Homo sapiens: one gene and its partner. The protein of the gene in region 1 purifies or fractionates together with the protein of each later gene. This does not show direct contact. Each region holds a gene or a part of one and is shown on either strand. Other genes may lie near its edges.

Region 1 (7,721 bases):
TTTGAAGGTAACTGATGTAAAGTATCTGACAACGTCTTTTATCTTAGATTCTATCAATCTTTACATTTTGGAAAAAGGACTTGCAGGTTTGAAAAGAAAAACCCAGACATCACCAGGTACCCTACTGTTCATGATTGGAGGTGTTTTTTGCAATCTATGCATGCAGAATTATCTCTTCTCATGCTCAAGAAAAGCTGACCCTTCCATTTCACAGCTTGATTCATGGGAGTGGCTTATTGCAGTTTCGTTATTCTGTACTTTCCCACATGAAGAAGGTATGTGTGGGAAAACATCAATCCTTACACATCCCTTATGGCATGAGAGTTGATGCTTGATGATTTGCAGACCAGGTGTGGGACTGTGGGACAGGCGAGAGACCCATCTTCCCTGGCCGCAGATGGCATGGGAGGTGGCTTCAGACTGTGCGTGGATTGTTTGTGGATGGAACATTAGTAGTTGACCGTATATTCCAAGATCATCAATAATAGTTTTAGTAAGTTTATCATTCTAAAGCAGAACTCAGCAATCTGAAACCCTTTGCCCACATTTGGATAGCCAAAATTTAAGAATGGCTAATAATTTACTTCTTATAATTTTAATTGCATGGGCAATACTTTTTAGTAGAACTTTTCTAGGGTGTATTATTTGCTTCTTTAACTTGATATAGAGAAGGCTGAAAACCAATAAACCTTTTCCTTATAACCTGACCTCATTCTGTTGACTATCATTCTAGTACTTTGCCAAAATACAGTGATTACTACTATGTTTACTATAGTTCTGTGGAGAATACAATAATTGTTACAGGCTTCTATAGCATCTGAATATTCACTCCCACACCAAATGGCCCCACACCAATGTACTCCCTAATTTTTATTCCTTACTTCTCACTATGCTTTTTGTACTTGCCTATGGCAACCACTCTCTCCTCTTTGTTTCTTTTAATCTGTGTCAGTCATAGAAGTCCAACAACCTTGTGAATAGATAATTAATAGGTTGTTAGATCTATTCCTATCAGTAGAGGAGGAGCTCAATGTTATGACATTGTCATGACAATGTTGTGACTTGACATTGATTTTGGGGACTTTGTGGTCTCTTATTTTACTCCCTGACTCTTACCTTGTTTAAGGTCAAGTAAGTCCAGGCACAGAGGCTCATGCCTGTAATCCGAGCACTTTGGGAGGCAAAGGCGGGAGGATCCCTTGAGCCTAGAAGTTCAAGACCAGCCTGGGCAACATAGTGAGACCCCATCTCTATAAAAACCTTTTTAAAATGCCAAATGAAACTAACAGGTACTGGATTTCAGACTGGTGAGTTGTTTGAGGAACAACTTAGATGCAAACTAACGTCAATTCAACTCTTATTCACAAAAGAAATCTAAAATTCTTAATGTTGTGTTTGCTTTATTTTGAGCTGAGGACTCAATTGTTATAGAACTTCACATGTAGAACTAAAACCCATGAGGTACCCTTTTTTGCAGAGTGGAGGAAAGAGGGCAATGCCAGTTTAGGAAACTTATGTTCAGTTAAGGTGAGATTGTACTAGTTTTGGTTTTAGATTGGTAATTCCTGGAGGCTGCTCTGAAGGTTGATACCAACATTGCTGGAGAGGTATGAAATGGTCCCTCCCTACCATTGATAAAATAAGGTACATTGTTGCTACATGGAGAGGCCAGTTCCTCATTCTCCCAACAAACAAATGCTGAGCTGAGCATCAAATCTATAGGTACTTTCTTTCTTTTTTTTTTTCTTTTTAGAGATGGAGTCTGGCTCTGTCGCCCAGGCTGAGTGCAGAGGTGTGATCATATCGCACTGTAACCTCAAACTCCTAGCCTCACAGAATCCTCATGCTGCAGTGCTCCTGAGTAGTTGGGGCTATGGATGCTTACCACCCCACCCAGCTAATTTTGAATCAATAGGTACTTTCACACATACATACAATCAGGGCCGTTCTATTATTTTTCTCCTTTAGAAGACTGTCCAAGTTCTAGGCAGCAACAATGTTAAAGGAATTCAGTATATTTGCATAGGCACTTGCATAATAGTTAGATCAGATTTCTTAGTCTTTGGGTTTCCCCTCTGTCCTTCTGGCCTTTTCCTCTCCTCTTTTGAGGGGTTAGGATACGGCTTTGGGTTTCCTTTGTAGTCGTTCAGACACAGGGGTGTAGCTGCTGGTAGGAAGTTATTTATGGCCAATAGGATTCACATCGGTAAGAATTATTTATTAGCCACTGTCTTAAATATTGGAACCAAGGCAATAGTAACTGCCGACATGATGCACTGCGGAAATGGAGAAACTTTAAAAACAGCAGGGCTTAGGGAGGTGGTTTGCAGAAAGGCAGGAAGAGCTCAAGCACCAGAAGAAATGGGTCTGGTTTCTCTTCCAGTATCACCGCCAATTGGCTGTGTGACCTAGGACAAGCCACTTCTCCTCTGCCAACTGCCATGCAGCATTTACCAAGAGGACATCAAAGAACCTCCCTCACAGGCCTGTTGCAGAAATTAAATGAGATAATGGCTAAGGCTCCTGGGAAGCTTTCCCTAAATGACTACACCCAGTGGATCTGGTAGAATCAAAAGTTAACAAGTCAATCCATTCATGCTAACTCTTCTTTATGTTTAAAAGAGGAAATTAATACATGGTCACCATAAAGAAAATTCACCAACCTTTGACCTTCCAAGCTTTGAGAATCCAGCAAACACCCACCCACACTGTTGGGGAAGCCATCTCACTGTACTAGAAATGAAACCATTGCAGGTTAATGATTCACTAATTCTAATGAGACCTGGAGAGATCAGCAAAACAAGCGAAACTGATAGCAATAGGACAAAAGGAAAGTGCAAGAGAGAAACCCAGAAAGCAGCTGAATGTTGCCTTTAATACCTGTAAGATGGTCTGTCCCTGAAGGCAACTGCACCCAGGTGGGTCCCGAGGCTCCTCAGAACCCGCAGATCCAGAGTGAGCTGCCAGGCGAGGGCTCGGAGCAACAAGTTCCACACCTGTAACAATGCGTCCTCCTGGCTGAGTGAAAGCAACCTTGCTACCAGCTGCAATGAGGAACTGGTCTCTCCCCTCCTTAGAGACATTTCCAGTTATTTGTTTATGAAAAAGCCTAAAGGGAAGCCAGCTCAGAATCTAAGGCAGCCTAAGAACAAGTCAGGTAAACAACGGCTGATCAAATACAGAAATGATGCAAATGTAACTTTTTACTTCCTCTTGAGGCATTCAACAAATCATCACTCATAGTTCAGTGAAGCAGTTCTAGGTTTCTATTTCATTTATTTTCTCTAAGGTTGTGAGATGCATTCTTTGGGACTCTACTTTCTTCACATCATAAAACATTTTGTGTTGATCTATTTTATTAATGACTTGCTTTGATAAGCATTGAATAGTAGAGGAAATGATTAGAGCACCAGGGAGTGAATTTGTGAACATTAGTTTTCAAATAATTAAAATGCAAATGGAAGAGCATTTATATCTACCAGTATTCTCATTAGATCAGTACCCCAAAGAATATTTATTTGATGCCTAGGTGGAGATAATGCATATGTATGCAGCATTAAACAAAAATGTCTATAGACTTTCCCAAAACAAAGTTGAAGTAATTCTAATGAAGTCTAATTCACTGAAGTTTTCATTGATTGGACTCATTACAGATACTTACTGTGAAGGTTCCCTGAGGTCGGTAGTTCTTAAAGTAGGGTCCCTGGACCAGCAGTATCACTATGACTTGAGAACTTGTTAGAAAGGAAAAATCTTCCCCCTCCATGCTCTCCAACCCCTGGAACTCTGGGATGGGGTCAGAAGTCCGTGGTTTTTTTTTGAGACAGGGTCTCACTCTGTCACTCAGGCTGGAGTGCAGTGGCACGATCTCAGCTCACTGCAACCTCCACCTCCTGGGTTCAAGCGATTCTCCTACCTCAGCTTCCTGTGTAGCTGAGATTACAGGTGCACACCACCAGGGCCCGGCTAACTTTTGTATTTTTAGTACAGACGGGGTTTCACCATATTGGCCAGGCTGTCCGAACTCCTGACCTCAGGTGGTCCACCCACTTCGGCCTCCCAAAGTGCTGGGATTACAGGTGTGAGCCACTGTGCCCAGCCAGAAGTCTGTGTTTAACAAGACTTCCAGGTGATTCTTACATGGGTTAAAATTTGAGAACCACTGCCCTTAGAGGAAAAGAAAAAAAGGTCTAACTTATAGATGTTGGCCTTGTGATAAACTTTATATTAGTCTTTAATTCTCTCATATTGATCTTACTAGAACATCATTTACTTAGAACTTTGAAAAATGACTTGATCTCCTGCCCTCACCACCATTGCCAACATTACCATGACTCAACCAAAAGCAGGATATCAAAAAATATTTTGCCTGCATGGAGCCTGCATAAACAGTTCTGAGCTCCTGCCAAGGATGTCTAGAAGTGAATTGCTTCAATTTGGGAAGGAAAAAAATGAATAAAGTCTTTTAGCTTTTAGTTTGTGGAAGGAAGGTCATACTCTTTTCTACCAATCCCCTCACGCACATGGGATTGTAAAGCTGTCTCTCCTAGGGGATAATGATAATGGAATACTTGATCCCAATGCAAAAACTTCCAACCTCTGGTTGTAACTTCAAGAAGGAAATTAAGAGTCTTATAGAAAGGTCACAAAAGATTATCACGGAAAAAAATGTGCCACCTCCATCTGATTTGTCAAGGAGATGGCAACAGGGAGGCATTTTGGGTGGGGAAGGGACACCCCAGAGTCAGCTTTTCCTTTAAGAACCTGGGGCAACCTCACTGTGGCCCTTTCTCAGATGACACATGGAGGTGCTCTCCAATATCGCAGAGGGAGCAGCTCGCCTCAGCATTTTTTGCCTGTGTGTAGTTTTACGTTTATGTATGCTTTGCTTCAATAAAAAGTATACCTTAAAAAGTATGTCTATGCTAAAAGATGACATCCTGGTTTGCTTACTTTATGGCTTTGAATTGGCAAATTCCTAAAAGATATTTTCTTTCTAGTTGTTGAAAAGAGGTATGAGATTTATTTGAGCTTCCTTTTAGGTTTTAGGGCTACAAAAATTCAGTTGTACCATATTTACAATGATTAATATAGCTGGGCACAGTGGCTGATGCCTGTAATCCCAGCACTTTGGAAGGCCAAGGTGGGCAGACTGATTGAGCCCAGGAGTTTGGGACCAGCCTGGGCAACATGCTGAAACCCCGTCTCCACAAAAAATACAAAAATTAGTTGGGTGTGGTGTTGGGCACCTGTAGTCCCAGCTACTTGGGAGGCTGAAGTGGGAGGAATGCTTGGGCTGAGGTTGCAGTGAGCCGTGATCATGCCACTGTACTGCAGTCTGGGTGACAGAGAAAGATCCTGTCTCTCAAAAACAAACCAAAACAAAAAAAGGTGACTATCAGATTAATATCAATGCATCTTGATATCTTTCAATATTTCTGAGGTATTTATTTAGGAAAAGTTTCTAGGTAGTACATATTCTGAGCTGTTTCATACCCCAAAATGACTTTATTTTGCTATCACATGTGCAGGGCATGGAATTCTTGCAACATGGTATTTTCCTTTAAAGGTCTGTAGACATTTTTGCATGATTTCAGTCATTAATAGTTGAAATAGGAGGTCAATAGAATATTTACTCTTTGCTGGGTACCATACTCTTAAATTTTTTTTTACTTCTTTGTGAGATTGTGTATGTTCTATTGAAGTGTGAAATATATATATACACACACAATACAATAGAACATTATATATATATAATTTTATTGGGATTAGGTCTTGCTATATCAAGCTGATCTCAAACTCCTGGGCTCAAGTGGTCCTCTTGCCTTAGCCTCCCCAGTAGCTGGGACTACAGGGAATGCTGCTAATTTTTTATTTTGAATTTTTTTAAAAGATAGGGTTGGCCGGGCATGGTGGCTCACGCCTGTAATCCCAGCACTTTGGGAGGCAGAGGCGGGCAGATCACGAGGTCAGGAGATCGAGACCATCCTGGCTAACACGGTGAAACCCCGTCTCTACTAAAAATACAAAAAATTAGCCGGGCGAGGTGGCGGGTGCCTGTAGTCCTGGCTACTCGGGAGGCTGAGGCAGGAGAATGGCCTGAACCCCAGGGGATGGAGCCTGCAGTGAGCTGAGATCACGCCACTGCACTCCAGCCTGGGCGACCGAGTGAGACTCTATCTCAAAAAAAAAAAAAAAAAAAGAGATACGTTCTTGGTATGTTGTCCAGGCTTAAGTTTTTTCTTTTATATTTGAAGGTAGAGAGGTTTACCTAGCATATGTCATGGTGGGTTCTGTTTACCAAATATCTGGTGTGTACTCTCTGTTATTTAAAATATTTTTTCTAAATAAGAAATATTTTCTGTGCTATTTGACATTTATCTCTCTTCCACTGATTCTTTTCCTTCAGTCCCCATTCTTCTTTGTCTTCACTTCACTCTTCACTTTCCTCATTCTCTTTCTTCACTCTTCAGAGTGAAGTTATCGCTTCACTCTGATATTTTATCTTTTCTCTACATTATTGCTATTGCTTTTACCTTAGGGATAATTTCTTGATACTGTTTTCTATTTGGCTATTTTGCTTGTTCCATTTTCTGCATAGTCCAAATTGCCTTTAACTGTTTCCATAATGACTTTAACATCAATTTTCCTTTCAAGATAAATAGGAGTATTTCAGCTCAATTCTTTTTTAGATGGACTTTTGCTCTTGTTGCCCAGGCTGGAGTGCAGTGGTGCCATCTTGGCTCACTGCAACCTCCACCTCCTGGGTTCAAGTGATTCTCCTGCCTCGGCCTCCCAAATAGCTGGGATTACAGGCATGTGCCACCATACCCGGCTGATTTTGTATTTTTAGTAGAGACGGGATTTCACCATGTTGGTCAGGCTGGTCTTGAATTCCTGACCTCAGGTAATCCATCCATCTCAGCCTCCCAAAGTGCTGGGATTACAGGTGTGAGCCACCGCTCCTGGCTTTGCAATTCTTTTTTATTACAAAATGTTTTCATGGTGGCAGACTGTAGGTTCTTGATTCATGTCAAAAATATGGATTATTTAGTGTGTCATGAACTGAGGGTTATGATTAACTCAACTATATGTGGTCTAAAAATTAAAGTCAAAGAATCATGAATTATAATTTCTAATTTTTTCTGTTTTTTGAAATAACTCTGTTTCAAAAAAAGTAGTTCTACTGAGCCATCCTAGAATTTTTTTGCTTTATTCTTATGACCTGTAAGCTCTTTTACTATGCTCAGTAGTTATTCCATTTGCCATTCCTTAGAGAAGGGTATCTTTGCTTGGCCAGTGTTGATTTGGGGTTGACAAAGGATTTCACTAGGTTCTGATTGCTTGCTCAGCAATTTTGCAGTTTAAGGGGCAGGGACCTAGAGTGACAGCTGCAGCCACAATCAGAGCATAAGCTGGGTGCCATCACACTCATTCAGGAATGAAGGGCTCCCCAGCATGGCCAGTCCTCTGCTTGCTTTCAGACTTATGACCAGGAGCCACATCTGAGGCCTTCCCTCAGATGTGCATTCCTAGAGCTCAAGTGAAAGGACCCAATGGGCCGGGCTTCCCATGAGTTCCCTATGCTTTCCTGCCTTTTGAGTCTTGGAACAGTGCCAACTCACCTCTTGGAATTGGAGTTTTAGTAGACATTTGTTAGCAGCCTCCCTGCACCCGTGATCCACTCTCCTTTCCAGAGTCGTGATTTCCATTTAGGTTCC
Region 2 (7,025 bases), on another chromosome or scaffold:
CTTATGCTTCCAGATCCCAAGGACTTTTGAAGAAAGTCAGCAGAGTGAGTTAAATAACTTCACTATAGATAATGCTACTTAACCTCAGCTGCACTGCCTGGCAATTCTTAAGAACTGTCTGGGATCCCCTATTACACTGCCAAGAACCAGGATTAAAATTTTCATAAACTTCTTCAATTTCCCTCCTTTCCTCTCTAAATGTCTCTGAACCTTCACCTACTCTCTCCTTCTGTCTTAGAAGCATCTCTTTTCTAGACTAGACTCTTGACCCTACTGCCTCTATTACTTGTAAGTCCCACTGCCCATCTTACAGTGTTAGCCAGACTCCTCTCTACTGGTTTCTTCCTTTCAATCTATAAGCATGTTCATAATCCTCACATCCTTGAATGTAAAAAAATATTTAAAAACTAGCCTTTTCTGGCCGGGTGCGATGGCTTACACCTGTAATTCTCAGCACTTTGAGGGGAGGCAAAGGAGGGTGGATCACCTGAGGTCAGGAGTTCGAGACCGGCTTGGCCAACATGGTGAAATCCCGTCTCTACTAAAAATACAAAAATTGGCCAGGCATGGTGGCATGCGCCTGTAATCACAGCTACTTGGGAGGCTGAGGTAGGAGAATCACTTGAACCCGGGAGGCGGAGATTGCAGTGAGCTGAGAATGCACAACTGTACTCTAGTCTGGGCAACAAGAGCGAAACTCCATCTCAGAAAAAAAAAAAAAAATCAGCCTTTTCTTTCCTTAACGAGGCCATTTCCTTAAGCTATAATATTACCCATTCTGTACCCTTGCCTTTACTGTTAACAGTGTAGTTTCTATTCACTGCCTGTCCCTCAATACATTCACTCCCCAGCCCTTTGAATTATCCCTCCTACTGTACACACCTGTTCTCAAAGGTCACCTAAATTTCATGCCAAAATTCAGGGGACTTTTTCTATTCCTTCTTCTCCCTGGTCTCTCCAGCATTGGAGAGTGTAGCCCTTCCTCCATTCCTGCTCTTCTGTTCTCTCATGTCCTGACATACTTCTGTCCCCGACTTCTTAAAATTCTTCTCCCTTGACCTAAGAGACAGTTATCTTAATTAACTCTCTAAATTAATCCAAAGCCAAATAAATTTTTCCCATCTTCCCAAATCTATCCTCTTCCTAATGTCTGCATTTCTGTAAATGGCACTGATATCTCTTTGTCACTCAAGCTCAAAATCTGAAATTCTTTGGCTCTTTTCCTTCCCTCACCAATTCAAGACTGCTTGGATCTACCTCCACAATACATTTTATATATTAAAATTCCATATGAGTGAAATAGTCCTTCCTTTCTTATAAAGACTTAGATTCTCATAATAGTCTCTGAACTGGTCTTCCTTTTCCAAATAACTCTACTACCAGAGTCTGATCATGTCACTACAGTACTGAAACCTACCACGAACAGCCAGGCAGCCCAGCAACACCTCTAAGAGATATGCAGTTCCTTTCGATCAGCCACAATCTATATTCGTCTTAAACATGGCAACCTCCTGGATGATGGAGGCCCATGTCATCTTAAAAATCATCTCCAACAACACTAAAAGCATTGTCTTGACCAAGGAAGTCGTAAGAATGTTTCTATTCATCCCCTTGACAACAGCTAAAAATAATGTACTTACTTCTTCAGTGACTATTTCATGCAAATCTGGAATGCTGAGATCTGCTTTCACAAAAGGAATCTTGTCCACCTCTTCAGGAAATGGCCGATGTTTCACAGAATATTTAAATCCAACGTCATTTTTAGGAACTGGGCGAGGTTCAGGTACAAAAAGCTGTTAAAACAAGTAACATTATGTTTATTACACAGGGTCCAATACCCATCTGTAATGACATGTATTTCCCTGGTCTCTTAGATGCCTGTGTTTCCCTAGGATTACATGTCACAAAAACTCACTCAGAACCTGCAAATGCTACAGATAACAGCAAAGGGAAGCAGCCTGTGCCCCTGTGTACTCTATTTTTCTAAAAATATTCATCGACTTCTTATAGATCTAATGACTGACAAATGGGCTGTGGACCTCTACTGCTGCAGGCCTGAATCTCCCACATTCAGTGGTTATCCAATGGGTATAGCATTTTGGAGCTTTAAGACTCAAACTCTCTTCCCCAGGGGCTCTCACATCATTCAATATAATTAAAGACAAGTTTGGCTTCACTGGGCATCTCTAGAAAGTGATTTTAACAAGAATCTTAATACGGCTTAATTGAGAGTATGGGCACCAAATCTAGGTCTTCACAGCTCCAAATCCATGCTTTAATATGTATATGGGTACATGGTGAACCCTAAACAAATTTTAGCTCCTTTCCTGGTCCCCTTCCTCTTCAGTCTTCAATGCTAACTTACTGGCTTACAGAGTTGATGACAGGATGTGCTCTGTACTGCCCCCTCCAAAAAAATGGAGGACTGGGTGATAAACACATCACATCTAACAGAGACATCTAAGATATTAAATGATTTTAGGCACATGCTCCAATTTTGTGGTGTCTCTCAAATGCTAGTGAAATATTAAGTCACATTTTAAATTTTTTTTAATCACATTTTTTTATTATGATACTTTAAGTTTTAGGGTACATGTGCATAATGTGCAGGTTAGTTAAATATGTATACATGTGACATGCTGGTGCGCTGCACCCACTAACTCGTCATCTAGCATTAGGTATATCTCCCATTGCTATCCCTCCCCACTCCCCCTACCCGACAACAGGCCCCAGAGTGTGATGTTCCCCCTCCTGTGTCCATGTGTTCCCACTGTTCAATTCCCACCTATGAGTGAGAATATGCGGTGTTTGGTTTTTTGTTCTTGCGATAGTTTACTGAGAATGATGATTTCCAATTTCATCCATGTCCCTACAAAGGACATGAACTCATCATTTTTTATGGCTGCATAGTGTTCCATGGTGTATATGTGCCACATTTTCTTAATCCAGTCTATCATTGTTGGACATTTTATATTTTTAATAGCAGAAATAAAAGCTTACAATGTTATAAATGAAAAGAGCAGTATACAAAATGACTCAAATTCTATTCAAGTGTTATTGTGTATGAAAAGAAAAAAAGGGAAGGAAATCCAATAAAATATTAGCAGTGGTTATATTCCTCTGGATAGTGAGTAAAGGTGATTTAAAATTTCTTCGTTATCTGAATTTTTCCAACTTCTCAAGTATTATTCACATAATTACAAATGTAATAAAATAAACTGCACCCCAAAAGATTTCATTAAATTATACACAGCATACATATGTGTGTGTGTGTGTGTATATGTATGTGTGTGTGTGTGTATATATATATATATTTTTTTTTTTTTTTTTAATTAGGCTGGGTGTGACAGCTCACATCTGTAATCCTAACACTTTGGGAAGCTGAGGTGGGAAGATCACTTGAAGACAGAAGTTTGGGATCAGCCTGGGCAACAAAGCAAGACCCTATCTCTACAAAAAATTTTAAAAATGAGCTGGGTGCCATGGCATGTGCCTACAGTCTCAGCTACTCAGGAGGATGAGGCAAGAGGATCACTGGAGCCCAGGAGCTTGAGGCTGCAGTGAGCTATGATTACACCACTGCACTCCAGTCTGGGCAACAGAACAAGACCCTGACTCTTTATAAAAAAAATAAAATTTATACAATATATTACCAATTATTATATAAGAACAAATCATATAAAACAATTTCAAACTAAGTCCTGTTGCGGACAAATCAAAAGTCCCACCAAATTTTTTTCACGTATGGTATATATCTGACTTTTATTACATTTGTAAAATTACATGGAAAAAACTGGGGCCATTGTCCACAACAGCAATTACTCCTAAGTAGATGTCAGAATCACCTGGAAAGCTTTTTGAAAAGACACCTGCCTTGAACATGTCTTTAAAGAGTAATTGAGTACATCTGGAATTCTAGGTTCCTAGATGATTCTGATATGAACCCACTGACTGAGAATCTGGCTAGGGATCAAAAATATTTATTTGATCTGTGTCTTCTGTTGGAATGTTACCTAACCTTTAAATTACAAAACACACACACACTTCCCTGTAACTTCTGATGAATACCTTCTGATTTGCTTTTGCTCCTCTGGGTAAAAGACAAAGCTGTTGTGCCCAAGCAAGTCTTCCAGACATTCCCCGGACCAGCACAGTGACAGAGGGGAAAAAATCATCTAGAATAAAATATGTATATAAAAGTTTTAATTTCAGACAACAACCATTTAAAATAAACTTGTTATCAACTGCAGAGCTTCTCATAATCAAAGGCCCAACAGTGTTTCCTAAGCTTTGATCTTTTGTGTACCACTTCTGTGGTTTCTGCCGTACCCATACCCGTGTACTGTAAGTACTATTACTTTGTATCAACCACTCTTGTGCATCTCTAAATGGAAAATCATGAATTTTGGCATGTACTAATTATATAATTTTAAAGCACATGCTTAAAAATACATAAAATAATGTTCACTAATGTATCAACTAAGATCATCTCACATACCTCCAATGGTACATGTACACATTTGTGGGAAACACTGTCCTAGTAAATACTCTTAACCTCCCAATGTTGGGAACAACTTAAGTGTAGAAAGACAGACTGGGTGTTTGCAGTGTTAGTGTTATATCTGCCCATGCCTTTGTGTACCACTGCCCACCACAGGCAGGCACTGTTCCATCTCAGCAGAAGTTCAGGGACATGATGGGGGTGTTAAAAAAAACACTCAGGATGGACTTCCCGAGTGACCCAGATCCTTTTTTTTATTCTTCCGTCTCAGATATGGGAGTCAAACGCCTTCAAACTTCTCTATAATTTCTTATTATTACAATAAACTATTAAAATGTCCTTGTAAATCTATACAATTCCAATTGCTTGTATTTTTGGTACACTTCCTATGCAATGAAATTATTTGGAATGAAAGTAGGAGAGTCTTTAAAAAGCTGGAAAAAGGCCAGGAAGCCTGAAGGGGACACTGGGATTTTGCAGACTCCTCAGCAGATGGCTTGGAGTAGGAGGCTGGAGGAATCATGAACAGGCACAGGCTAGGAAAGAAAGCCAAGCAAGCTCCATGTCTAGGGTAGAGAAGGATGAGATGCCTGTAGAAAAGACTTGGGAGTAGCAGTTCTGAAGTTAGACAATAATAAAAGGCACCATTCCATTTCACATTAATGTCACCGCATCTCACCACAACACAACAGAAGTTTATGATGGTATTCTTTTCATCTCAAACTGCAGGGAAATGTCTCACTTTCACTTCATGGATTTATGAGCTCTTACTCATATAATCAACAAAACTGGCACAGAACTCTTCACCTTTACAAAGGCAAGAAGGCAAATCTTTAATCACTGAGCAAATCCTATCACTGTGCGACAATAATAATAGAAAGGGACAATACAGGGTTTAGAAAATCTGGGCTCTAGTCCCAAGTAACCCTGGGCAAGTCATATACCCTCTGTGAGCCTGAGTTTTTTCACTCATAACTAAGGGAATTGTATACCAGGTGACTCCATGGGTCACTTTATACCCACAGATTCTGTAACCTTCACTTTCCTTCCCCTTCCCAGCAATAAGGGTCTGAGAACATGCTTCTTTTACATACTGGCTGATGCCAATTACCATCAGAAAAAAAAAATGTACTTGTGGATAGTTTGGGTCGCAGTGATAATCACATATTGTGAGATGGCTTATAACTGAGGGGGAGGGAAAGGAGGAAAACAGTGCATGTTGTGTTAATGGAAAATCACTGAAGGATTTTCAGTAGGGCACTGGCATGGTCATTTGTGGTTGAAGATGAATACTATGGTGGCAGCAAGTAGGATGAAAGTAGGGAAAACACATGTTAGAACTGGCAAGGGGTTTAGGGGTTGAGGGAATCAGAGTAGGTAGGAAACAGCTGTAATAATCTAGGTGAGAAATAATAAGGACCTGCACTTGGATGTATTGGGAAAATACAGAGGAAAGGAAAAATTCAAGGGTCCCTGGGAAGATGGAAACTTAGAAACTAATTATATAAGTGAGTAACAGGAAGGGGCAGGTAAAGATAACTCCTCAAGTTTCTAGCCTGTGTAGGTAGCACCAACAATTGATACAGAACATGAGGAGTGAGAGGGAGGGGAGCAGAGGGGCAGGATCCGAAGTTCAAGGGGGAAGAAAAAGTGACAAAGATAAACAACACAATGGAACCCACTAAAACACCACCTTTTATAAAACTACAGAGCTAGTTCAGATGCACATCAAGAGCCTTTAAAAGACTCTATGTAATATGTATATTCTATTTTTTTGCCCCCCTATTTTTCAGGTGCTATTGTCCCACAGCTAGAAATCTTTCTGACCTACTTAGAATCTGTAGGCTGTCCTTCCCTGATCCTGGAAACAGCTTCATGGTACTGGTAACACTGATTAAGCAGTAGAGAAGGCTCAAAGTACTATAAACTTACTCTGCTCATTTCCAAGAGGTTGTTCCAGCATTGCCAGGATGACACTGTTATCCAAGACAAAGTACCGGAAACTATGCTTGTTTATGGTTGGCAGCCTGGAGTATTTAATCAAAGTGGTCTCATTCACAAGACTACAAGGAGAGGCAGGACCACTAGGTGAAGGAAATGCGCCGAGCAACTGCATAATGCTATGGAGAATGGAAAAGATAACAGTTAATTCCCAAAGCAAAATCTTCAGTTTACCTTGTGCATCAATGTGTCCCCTTCCACTCTTCTGAATTTTAATTGACCACAGCCATGCTTCTTGACAGGTCAGATTTACTCCTTGTGGTGAATGCCATGGCATGCTGTCCAGACTCTCCCCTCCAAGATTAAAAAGCCCATTACCCCAGATGCATACCTGTATGTCTTTATTTCAGAGACATTTAATCTGCCTTTCCAGTCTGGTCAATATCCGGAACAGAAAATGCAGTTAGGCTGGTATAATTTGATCTTAGTGACCTACTCCCTTACCAGCAACCTATCTGATATCTTAGAATCTTGCATGGAACACAGCAAGCTCATATTCCATATGCTTTGTGACAACCGTCTC

Evidence for each region. Proteins that work in one complex are often made in the same cells at the same time.
Region 2: the proteins of PLEKHG7 (region 1) and RALGAPB purify together in Homo sapiens (affinity purification with mass spectrometry; 2 studies listed by BioGRID and IntAct, with this or other methods). This does not show direct contact.

Annotation. Positions count from the first base shown.
Region 1 is NC_000012.12:92,698,292-92,706,012, reverse strand, and holds the start of PLEKHG7 (pleckstrin homology domain-containing family G member 7), read right to left. Parts: upstream 3,025-7,721; 5' UTR 2,881-3,024; intron 2,730-2,880; exon of another isoform or gene 2,725-2,729; coding exon of another isoform or gene 2,664-2,724; intron 1-2,663.
Region 2 is NC_000020.11:38,545,839-38,552,863, reverse strand, and holds part of RALGAPB (ral GTPase-activating protein subunit beta), read right to left. Parts: intron 6,622-7,025; coding exon 6,434-6,621; intron 4,176-6,433; coding exon 4,069-4,175; intron 1,794-4,068; coding exon 1,641-1,793; intron 1-1,640. UniProt on the Homo sapiens protein: Non-catalytic subunit of the heterodimeric RalGAP1 and RalGAP2 complexes which act as GTPase activators for the Ras-like small GTPases RALA and RALB.